2 separate regions of the Homo sapiens genome follow, and region 1 is linked to region 2. A link means that fine-mapping ties the variant in region 2 to the expression of a gene that starts in the linked region. Tissue or cell type: cerebellar hemisphere. Region 2 holds a variant in brackets; the other region holds the start of a gene. All regions are shown on one strand. Distances are from middle to middle.

Region 1 (4,223 bases), 300 kb after region 2:
CTTCCCAGGTAGGGTTGTGGTTTAGGAACTCTGGAGCGTGGTTTTACATAGGTAAGATCTCATCTCCGTAGAGGGCCCCACCCTCTCATCCACTCAGCCAGTCCGCGTTGGGTGTGGTGAGCCCCACAAGAGGTGTGTCTTCCTCCCATTTCTGTGGAGGGTGGGGGAGAGGCTCCTGGGCCCACCAGGTTGTGGGGAGGATGTTAGTTTGATCGGCAGGGAAATTGGGAGGCCCAGGCAGCCCCCACAAACTCTCCTGACACAGGCAGATCTCCCCAGGCTCCCCTGGGCCTCACCTGCATCAGAAGATTCGGAGGATTCAGACGACAGGGAGGATTCGGATGCCCGTCGAGACAGGGATAGGTGCGTCAGGCGGCTGCGGCTGCGGAAGAGCAGGGTCCCTACCTGACTCTTTGGGGTTTCGCTGGGAAGGGAACAGGGACCCGGGAAAGGAGAAAGGTAAACGTGGGGCTCAAGGCCTGGCTAGCCCACGTTCCCACTCCCTTGCTGAGAAAAGAACTGAGCGAAACACTACACCGGGAAAGCAATGGCCCTGAGGGCCCCCTCTTCTCAGGTCAAGGAAGGTTCATTCTACAGAGGCCCTAAAGCGTCTTCTCTTCGTTGACTGGTTTAGGAAAGGTCCTCTCAGGAGCAGGGCAAGGTGAGCCCAGGGTGTGAGCAAGGCTGCCTGGCTGGAGGCCAGCCTAAGGGTTGGTGGTCTAGCAGAGCCGCCCCAGAGAGCCTTCCCCTAAACTGTCAGACCCCCACCTTTCCAGGACCCTTCCTGAAGGATGGACCAAGACCAGGTTCTCCTACTGGAACAACCCAGCTCTCCCCTTGCAGACTTAGGGAGCAGGATCAGTGTTTAATTAATTGTCTTAATTCTGGGGGCAGAACTGGGGTGGAGGGAGCAGGGGCATGGATGTGTGAGTGCTCCACGGCTCTGCCACCCTTAAGTTCCCTCTCCAGGCTTGAGATTCCCATCCTGGGGCAAAATGGTGGCTATCCGGGCAGAGATTACGGAGGCAGCGTGGTGGAGGCACAATGAGGGAGGAGGGAGTGAGGGGAAAGAAGATTTGGAGAGGCTTGTGCAGACTGAGAGCAGGTCACCTGGAGGTGTGGGGGGCACAGCCCAGGTCTCACTTCCCATGTCCTGGGCCCCTAGGAGGGAACAAGGGCGTACCTCTCCACTGCTCAGGATGCCTCCCCGGACTCCACCTCCTGGATTCGACTACCATGCCCAGTTCTCCAGGAGGCCCAGGACTCCAGACCTAGCCTCTCACCCCCATATGCAGCCTCCTTGGGGTGTCCTACCTGCCGAGCCCGGCGAGGTCGTGCATGGTCTGGGTGAGGGTGGTGACCGGCGAGGAAGCGGCCGCCCGCACCGGGGACCCCAGGAGGCCATGAGATCCCAGCAGGAGGCCCGGGAGGTGGCCCGGACGCTGGGCGCCACCGCACACGCCTGCTGGACTGAGAGCCGAGCCTGGCGCGGGCTCCGGCTGGGGCACCTCCATCGCGGCGGGGCCGGCAGAAGGCTGGCTGGAGGGCCGGGCGCAGGGCAGCCAACAAACGCCGGCACAGCTGGCTGGGCCGAGGGAGGCAGCGGGCGAGGGGTGGGGGGGGGGGGAAGGAGGGAGGGAGGAAGAGCCACAGGGCCAGGCGCGAGGGAGGAGAGGGATGCGGGGAGGGCGGGGGGCGAGGGACGCCGGGCTCAGGCACCAGCCAGGGAAGCCTCTAGTTGCAGCTGCCACTTCCACCTCCTTATATATTCGAAAAATAACAGCAGCCGCGCCGCCGGACGCCACCAATGGGGTAGCGGGTTAGATGAGGGCGGGACTGAGGGCGGGGCCCGCAGGGCAAGAGGCGCGGAGGCTGGATTTCCAGGCTTTGGGTGGGCCGGAGGAATTAAGATTTATCCCACACCCTCGCACATCCCCCTGGCGCGAGGATCCCGGCCTCCCAAAATCCGCCTCTCGCGACATGGTTTGGAGCTCCACACTCCCAAAGGCAGCAGCAACGCCCTAGGGTGGCCTCCGCAGGACCCCCCGCGGCATGTCGTCACCTGGGATCACCGCTAGGGATGGGGAGAGGCTCCAACTGGCTCCCGGAAGTTTGCTAAACCCAGCTGGGCTGTACGGTCTGCGTTAGACACCCCATTTTACAGACCTGGACGCTGAGGCGTGAAGTTCATTAACTCAATCAAGGTCACGCGGTTGGGCAGGCGGTGGGCCAGGATTCGCTCGCTCCAGGCGCCTCTGACCGCGCAGCCTCCCCGCCTCCGCGACTGGCTGCGCTGAGCAGCAGCAAAACGTCATTCGCAGGAGAAGCGCCCAGCGTAGGAGGTGGGAGGGCAGTGGGGCCCCCAAGCGGAACTGATGGGCTCTTTCGCGGGACCCCAGGTTAGATGTTACCCCAACCGGCCCAATTTTCGCGGCAGCCCCAGGAGAGGCTCTAAACGGTGGAACTAGGAATGGATTTCCGCGGCTGGGGGTCGAGGAGGGTGTCAGCAACCAGAGAGGCGAATTAAGTATCACGCCCATTGATGATTTGGCTAACTTGGTGCCAATGGCACCATATTATTTAATTGGTGTTTCTTTGATGACCAGACCAGGGAGGCTGAATTTGTCATTCGTTTTAAGCGGAGCAGCTTCCAATTATCTTTCTTTTTGTTTTGTTTTGTTTTTTTTGGGATGGAGTCTCCCTCTGTCAACCCGGCTGGAGTGCAGTGGCCATCTCTGCTCACTACAACCTCCGCCACCCGGGTTCCAGCGATTCTTCTGCCTCAGCCTCCCGAGTAGCTGAGACTACAGGAGCGCGCCACCACGCCCAGCTAATGTTTGTATTTTTAGTAGAGACGGGGGTTTCACCATATTGGCCAGGCTGGTCTCGAACTCCTGACCTCGTGATCCACCCACCTAGGCCTCCCAAAGTGCTGGGATTACACGCACGAGCCACTGTGCCCGGCCCATCTTCCAATTATCTAAATGCCTTCCAGCCCCGCTCGTTTTCCAGGCCTCCTGGAACAAGAGGCCTGAAGGCTGCACCCAAAAGCCGGTGGGTAGTGAGCAGCTTTCGCATCCTGTCTCCCCAGGTTAGAAGTGGCCTCTGGCTGGGCGGGTGGTGGTGCGGGGGGCGGGCTGCAGCTCAGCAAGGCAGGAGTACCCCTTCTCGTGCAGTCCCAGCCACCCAGACCCAAGGTGCATTGGATGGGGGTGGCAAAAGGGAGGGCCTGGTGATGGGGGGCTGGGTGGGCCAATGCATCTGAAGGGTAGGGGAAGACCCCAGCCCCACCTGAGAGGGGTGGCCAAGGTGGGAACGTGACCTTTCCTTTTCTCCAAATTTTGCCCAGCTCCTGTGCTGTGCAGAGGGCTCTGCAAGACTGAATTTCCGGTTCATCCTCCCTGGGTCAGGGGTTATGCCCTGGACCTCCAGCCACTACTTCCAGTGAGGATGTGACTGCCCTTAGTGCCAGGAGGGAAGGGGGAAGTGTCCTTGTAAAGCCACCCAGCCCAAAAACCAGAAAAAAAAAACTGCCCCGAGATTTGCATTTTCAAAATAAACACAACAGGTATCCCCCCCACCCCCCACCCAGCCAATATACATCTGCACAGGGTGTATGTGGCAGGGCAGGCATTATACTATTGAATCCCTTGAAATCCCACAGTCAAAAAACACATGAAAAAATGCTCATCATCACTGGCCATCAGAGAAATGCAAATCAAAACCACAATGAGATACCATCTCACACCAGTTAGAATGGCAATCATTAAAAAGTCAGGAAACAACAGGTGCTGGAGAGGATGTGGAGAAATAGGAACACTTTTACACCGCTGGTGGGACTGTAAACTAGTTCAACCCTTGTGGAAGTCAGTGTGGCGATTCCTCAGGGATCTAGAACTAGAAATACCATTTGACCCAGCCATCCCATTACTGGGTATATACCCAAAGGATTATAAATCATGCTGCTATAAAGACACATGCACATGTATGTTTATTGCGGCACTATTCACAATAGCAAAGACTTGGAACCAACCCAAATGTCCAACAATGATAGACTGGATTAAGAAAATGTGGCACATATACACCATGGAATACTATGCAGCCATAAAAAATGATGAGTTCATGTCCTTTGTAGGGACATGGATGAAATTGGAAATAATCATTCTCAGTAAACTATCGCAAGAACAAAAAACCAAACACCGCATATTCTACTCATAGGTGGG
Region 2 (4,223 bases):
GAACACAGCCTACCACGCCTTGGTTTTAGTCTGATGAGACCTGTATCGGACTTCTGACCTATAGCACCGTAAGATAACAAATTACTAATAAGTTTATGACAGCAGTAATAAAAAAACTATTACACTAGGTTAATTATTTATTCTAATTTAATATTAATAAATTAGTAACAATTATTAAAACTAATTTAACCAGTTTCTTTTTACATTTTTGGTTTTTTTTTTTTTTGAGACAGAGTTTCACTCTTGTTGCCCAGGCTGGAGTACAATGGCGCGATCTGGGCTCACCACAACCTCTGCCTCCCAGGTTCAAGTGATTCTCCTGCCTCAGCCTCCTGAGTAGTTGGGATTACAGGCATGCGCCACCACGCCCAGCTAATTTTGTATTTTTAGTAGAGACAGGGTTTCTCCATGTTGGTCAGGCTGGCCTTGAACACCTGACCTCAGGTGATCCACCCACCTCAGCCTCCCAAAGTGCTGAGATTACATGCGTGAGCCACCACACCTGGCCTTTACTTTTTTAATGTGACTACTAGAAAATTAAAAGTTACATACTGTATATGACTCACATTTGTGGTTCACTTTGTTTCTGTTAAACAGTGCTGATCACACACAGGCACATCACATATTTTTTAACCCATGACACTACATTGACTTTGTATATATAGAGAGAGACGAGGTCACTATGTTGATAAAGCTGGAGTGCAGTGGCACAACACAGAGAGAGACCTTGATTATAGCTTACTATAGCATCCAGCTCCTGGGTTCAAGCAATTCTTCCACCTCAGCCTCCCAAGCAGCTGGGACTACAGGCACCACTGCCTCTGGCTTGACATAGACTTTTTGAGGACAGCACACTAGTTGTCTTGCAGAATATTCCCCCTACTCTGGACTTGTCAGATTGCTTTATCATGGTGTCATTTAACTTACTCCTCTACCCTGTATATTCCCTGTAACCTGGAAGTTCATTTAAACAGTTTCATTAGATATGGGTTAAACATTTTTGGCAAGAATACAAAGGTGGCACTATGACGTCATGTTGTATGTATCACATCAGGAAGCTCATAATGTTTGGTTGTCTGACTATAAATGATGCAAGTTCGATTATTAGTTAAGGTCGTGTTGTGAGTTGAACTGTGTCCCCCCAAAAGATAAACTGAATTCCAAACCCCTGGTACCGGTGAATGTGACTTTATTTGAAAATAGTGGTTTTTGCAGATATAATCAAGCTAAGATGAAATCATACTGGATTAGGGTGGGCCTAATCCCATACTGTCCTTACAAGAGAGAAATTTGGACACCAAGACACAGAGACGTTCAGGGTGGATGCCAAGTGATGACAGAGGCAGAGGCTGGTGATGTGTCTATAAGGCCAAGAATGCCAAGCATCGCTGGCAACCACCAGAAGCCAAGAAAGAGGCATGGAACTGATTCTTCTTCAGAGCTCCCAGAAGGAACCAACCCTGCTGACACAATGATTCAGACCTCTGGCCTCCAGAACGGAGAGAATACTTTTCTATTGTTTTAATCCTATTGTTTATTCTATTGTTTAAATTATTGTAATAATTTGCTACAGCAGCCCCAGGAAATAAGTTCAGGTGGTGACATCAGATCTTTCTAACACAAAGGGAAGAAGGGCCGGGCACGGTGGCTCACACCTGTAATCCCAGCACTTTGGGAGGCTGAGGTGGGCGGATCACCTGAGGTCAGGAGTTCAAGACCAGCCTGACCAACATGGTGAAACCCCGTCTTTACTAAAAACACAAAAATTAGCCGGGTGTGGTGGCGCATGCCTGTAATCCCAGCTACTCGGGAGGCTGAGGCAGTAGAATCGCTTGAACCAGGGAGGCAGAGGTTGCAGTGAGCCGAGATCACGCGACTGCACTCCAGCCTGGGTGACAGAGCAAGACTCCATCTCAAAAAAATAAATAAATAAAAGGGAAGAGGTTTATAGTAATATTCCATTGTGGTTTAATTTGCATTTCCCTATGACTAGTAATGTTGAGCATTGAACATCTTTGTGTGAATTTATTTGCCATGTGTTTCTCTTCTTTGGTGAAGAATGTTTTCCCATTTTTGTTTAAGTTGTTGGTTTTCTTAATATTGAGTTTTAAAAGGTTTTTTAAAAAATATTCTAAACATACATCTTTTATCAGTTAT[T/C]TAACTTGCAAATATTCTTCTTCCAGTTTGTGGCTTGTCTTTTTGTTCTCTCAAAAGTGCCTTTCAAAGAACAGGAGTTATGGCTGGGTATGGTGGCTCACACCTGTAATCCTAGCACTTTGGGAGGCCGAGATGGGTCGATCGTTTGAGGTCAGGAGTTCTAGACCAGCCTGGCCAACATGGTGAAACCCCGTCTCTACTAAAAACACAAAAATTAGCTGGGCATGGTGGCAGGCGCTTATAATCCCAGCTACTTGCAAGGCGGAGGCTCGAGAATCACTTGGACCCGGTGGCAGAGTGAGACTCTGACTCAAAAAAAAGAGAACAGAAACAAGATCACAATATTTTCCCCTGTGTTTTATTTTTAAAGTTTTATAGTTTTAGGTCTATGATCGCTTTTGAGTTTATTTTTATATGGTGCCAAGTATAGATAAAAGGTTCATTTTTCTGTATATGGATAAACAAATGTTCATGCACTGTTTGTTAAAACAGAAACTACCCTTTCTCCAGTGAATTGCCTTTGCACCACTGTCAAAAATCAATCGGCCATATATGAGAAGGTCTATTTCTGTACTGTATTATGTTTCATTGTTCTGTTTTTCTTTCTTGATGCCAATTTCACACTGTCTTGATTAATGCCAGTTTCTAAGTCTTAAAGTCAAGTAGTGTAAATCCAACTTTATTCTTCTTTTACAAACTGGTTTTAGCTATTACAAGTCCTTTGCACTTCTATGTTAATTTTAGAATCAGCTTATACATTTCCACCAAAAAAGACTGCTGGGATTTTGATTGGAATTGCATTGAATCTACAGATCAATTTGGAAAGGAATGATACTTTGTAATATTGAGTCTTGCTATCCATGAACACATTATATCTCTCCTTTTATTTAGATCTTCTTTAATTTCTATCAGTAATTTTCATTGTGATATCTCATACATCTTTTGTCAGATTTAGCTCTTAAGTATTTTATGTATCTCATGCTGTTGTAAATGGTTTTGCTTCATTTCAATTTTCTATTATTCCTTGCTAGTATAAGGAAATAAATTGATGTTTGTGCCAGGCGTGGTGGCTCACACCTGTAATCCCAGCACTTTGGGAGGCCGAGGCGGGCAGATCATGAGGTCAGGAGATCAAGACCATCCTGGCTAACACAGTGAAACCCGGTCTCTACTAAAAATGCAAAAAATTATCCGGACATGGTGGCGGGCACCTGTAGTCCCAGCTACTCGGGAGGCTGAGGCAGGAGAATGGCGTGAACCTGGGAGGTAGAGCTTGCAGTGAGCCAAAATCCTGCCACTGCACTGCAGCCTGGGTGACAGAGCGAGACTCCATCTGAAAATAAATAAATAAATAAATAAATAAATAAATAAATAAATAAAATGAATTGATGTTTTTATTGTGATCTTGTATCTTACAATCTTGCTAAACCACTTATTAATTCTAGTAGCTTTTTGTAGATTTCATAAGATTTTCTAGGTAGAAATTTCATAAGATTTTCTAGACAATCAGATGACTTGATGACTTTATCATCTGCAAATAAAGATAGTCTTACTTCTTTCTATTCAATGTGAATGTCTTTTTTTTCTTACCTTTTTGCATGGGATACACCTCCAATACAATTTCAAGTAGAAATAATATAAGCACACGTTCTTGCCTTGCTCCTGAGCTGAGGGAGAATGCACCACTAAATATGACATTAGTTAAAGGTTCTTCATAGATGTATGCTCTTTATCAAGTTGAAGAATTTCCCCTCTCTTCCTGGTTTTCTGGGAGTATTACCAGAAATGGATTTGAAATTATGTCAAATGATTTTTCTACATCTATTGAAATGATCCTTTTTTTCTTTTTTAGTCTATTTATGTCGTGAACTACATTAATTATTCCAATGTTGGAGCAATGTTGCATTCCTGTGATAAATCCCATTTGGTCATGATATATTACTCTTTTTTTCTCCGCCTCCCGGGTTCATGCCATTCTCCTGCCTCAGCCTCCCAAGTAGCTGGGACTACAGGTGCCCGCCACCATGCCCGGCTAATTTTTTGTATTTTTAGTAGAGACAGGGTTT

The links. PIP is the estimated chance that this variant, and not a neighbour inherited with it, causes the effect.
Region 1: it holds the start of CDC25B, and the variant in region 2 is the best candidate, but not a certain one, in a credible set for the expression of CDC25B in cerebellar hemisphere (GTEx, PIP 0.76).

The regions. Positions count from the first base shown.
Region 1 is chr20:3,793,823-3,798,045 of GRCh38, reverse strand. CDC25B (cell division cycle 25B) reads right to left here and starts at 1,736. Exons shown (of 16, transcript NM_021873.4): 1 at 1,315-1,736; 2 at 297-424. The coding sequence starts at 1,514. RefSeq lists silencers at 1,145-1,352, 1,419-1,598, 1,639-1,708 and enhancers at 1,939-2,098, 2,009-2,740.
Region 2 is chr20:4,097,273-4,101,495 of GRCh38, reverse strand. No RefSeq gene overlaps it. Among named protein-coding and RNA genes, the nearest start is that of SMOX, 49 kb to the left of the region's middle. The variant T/C (reference allele first, on the strand shown) is at 2,158.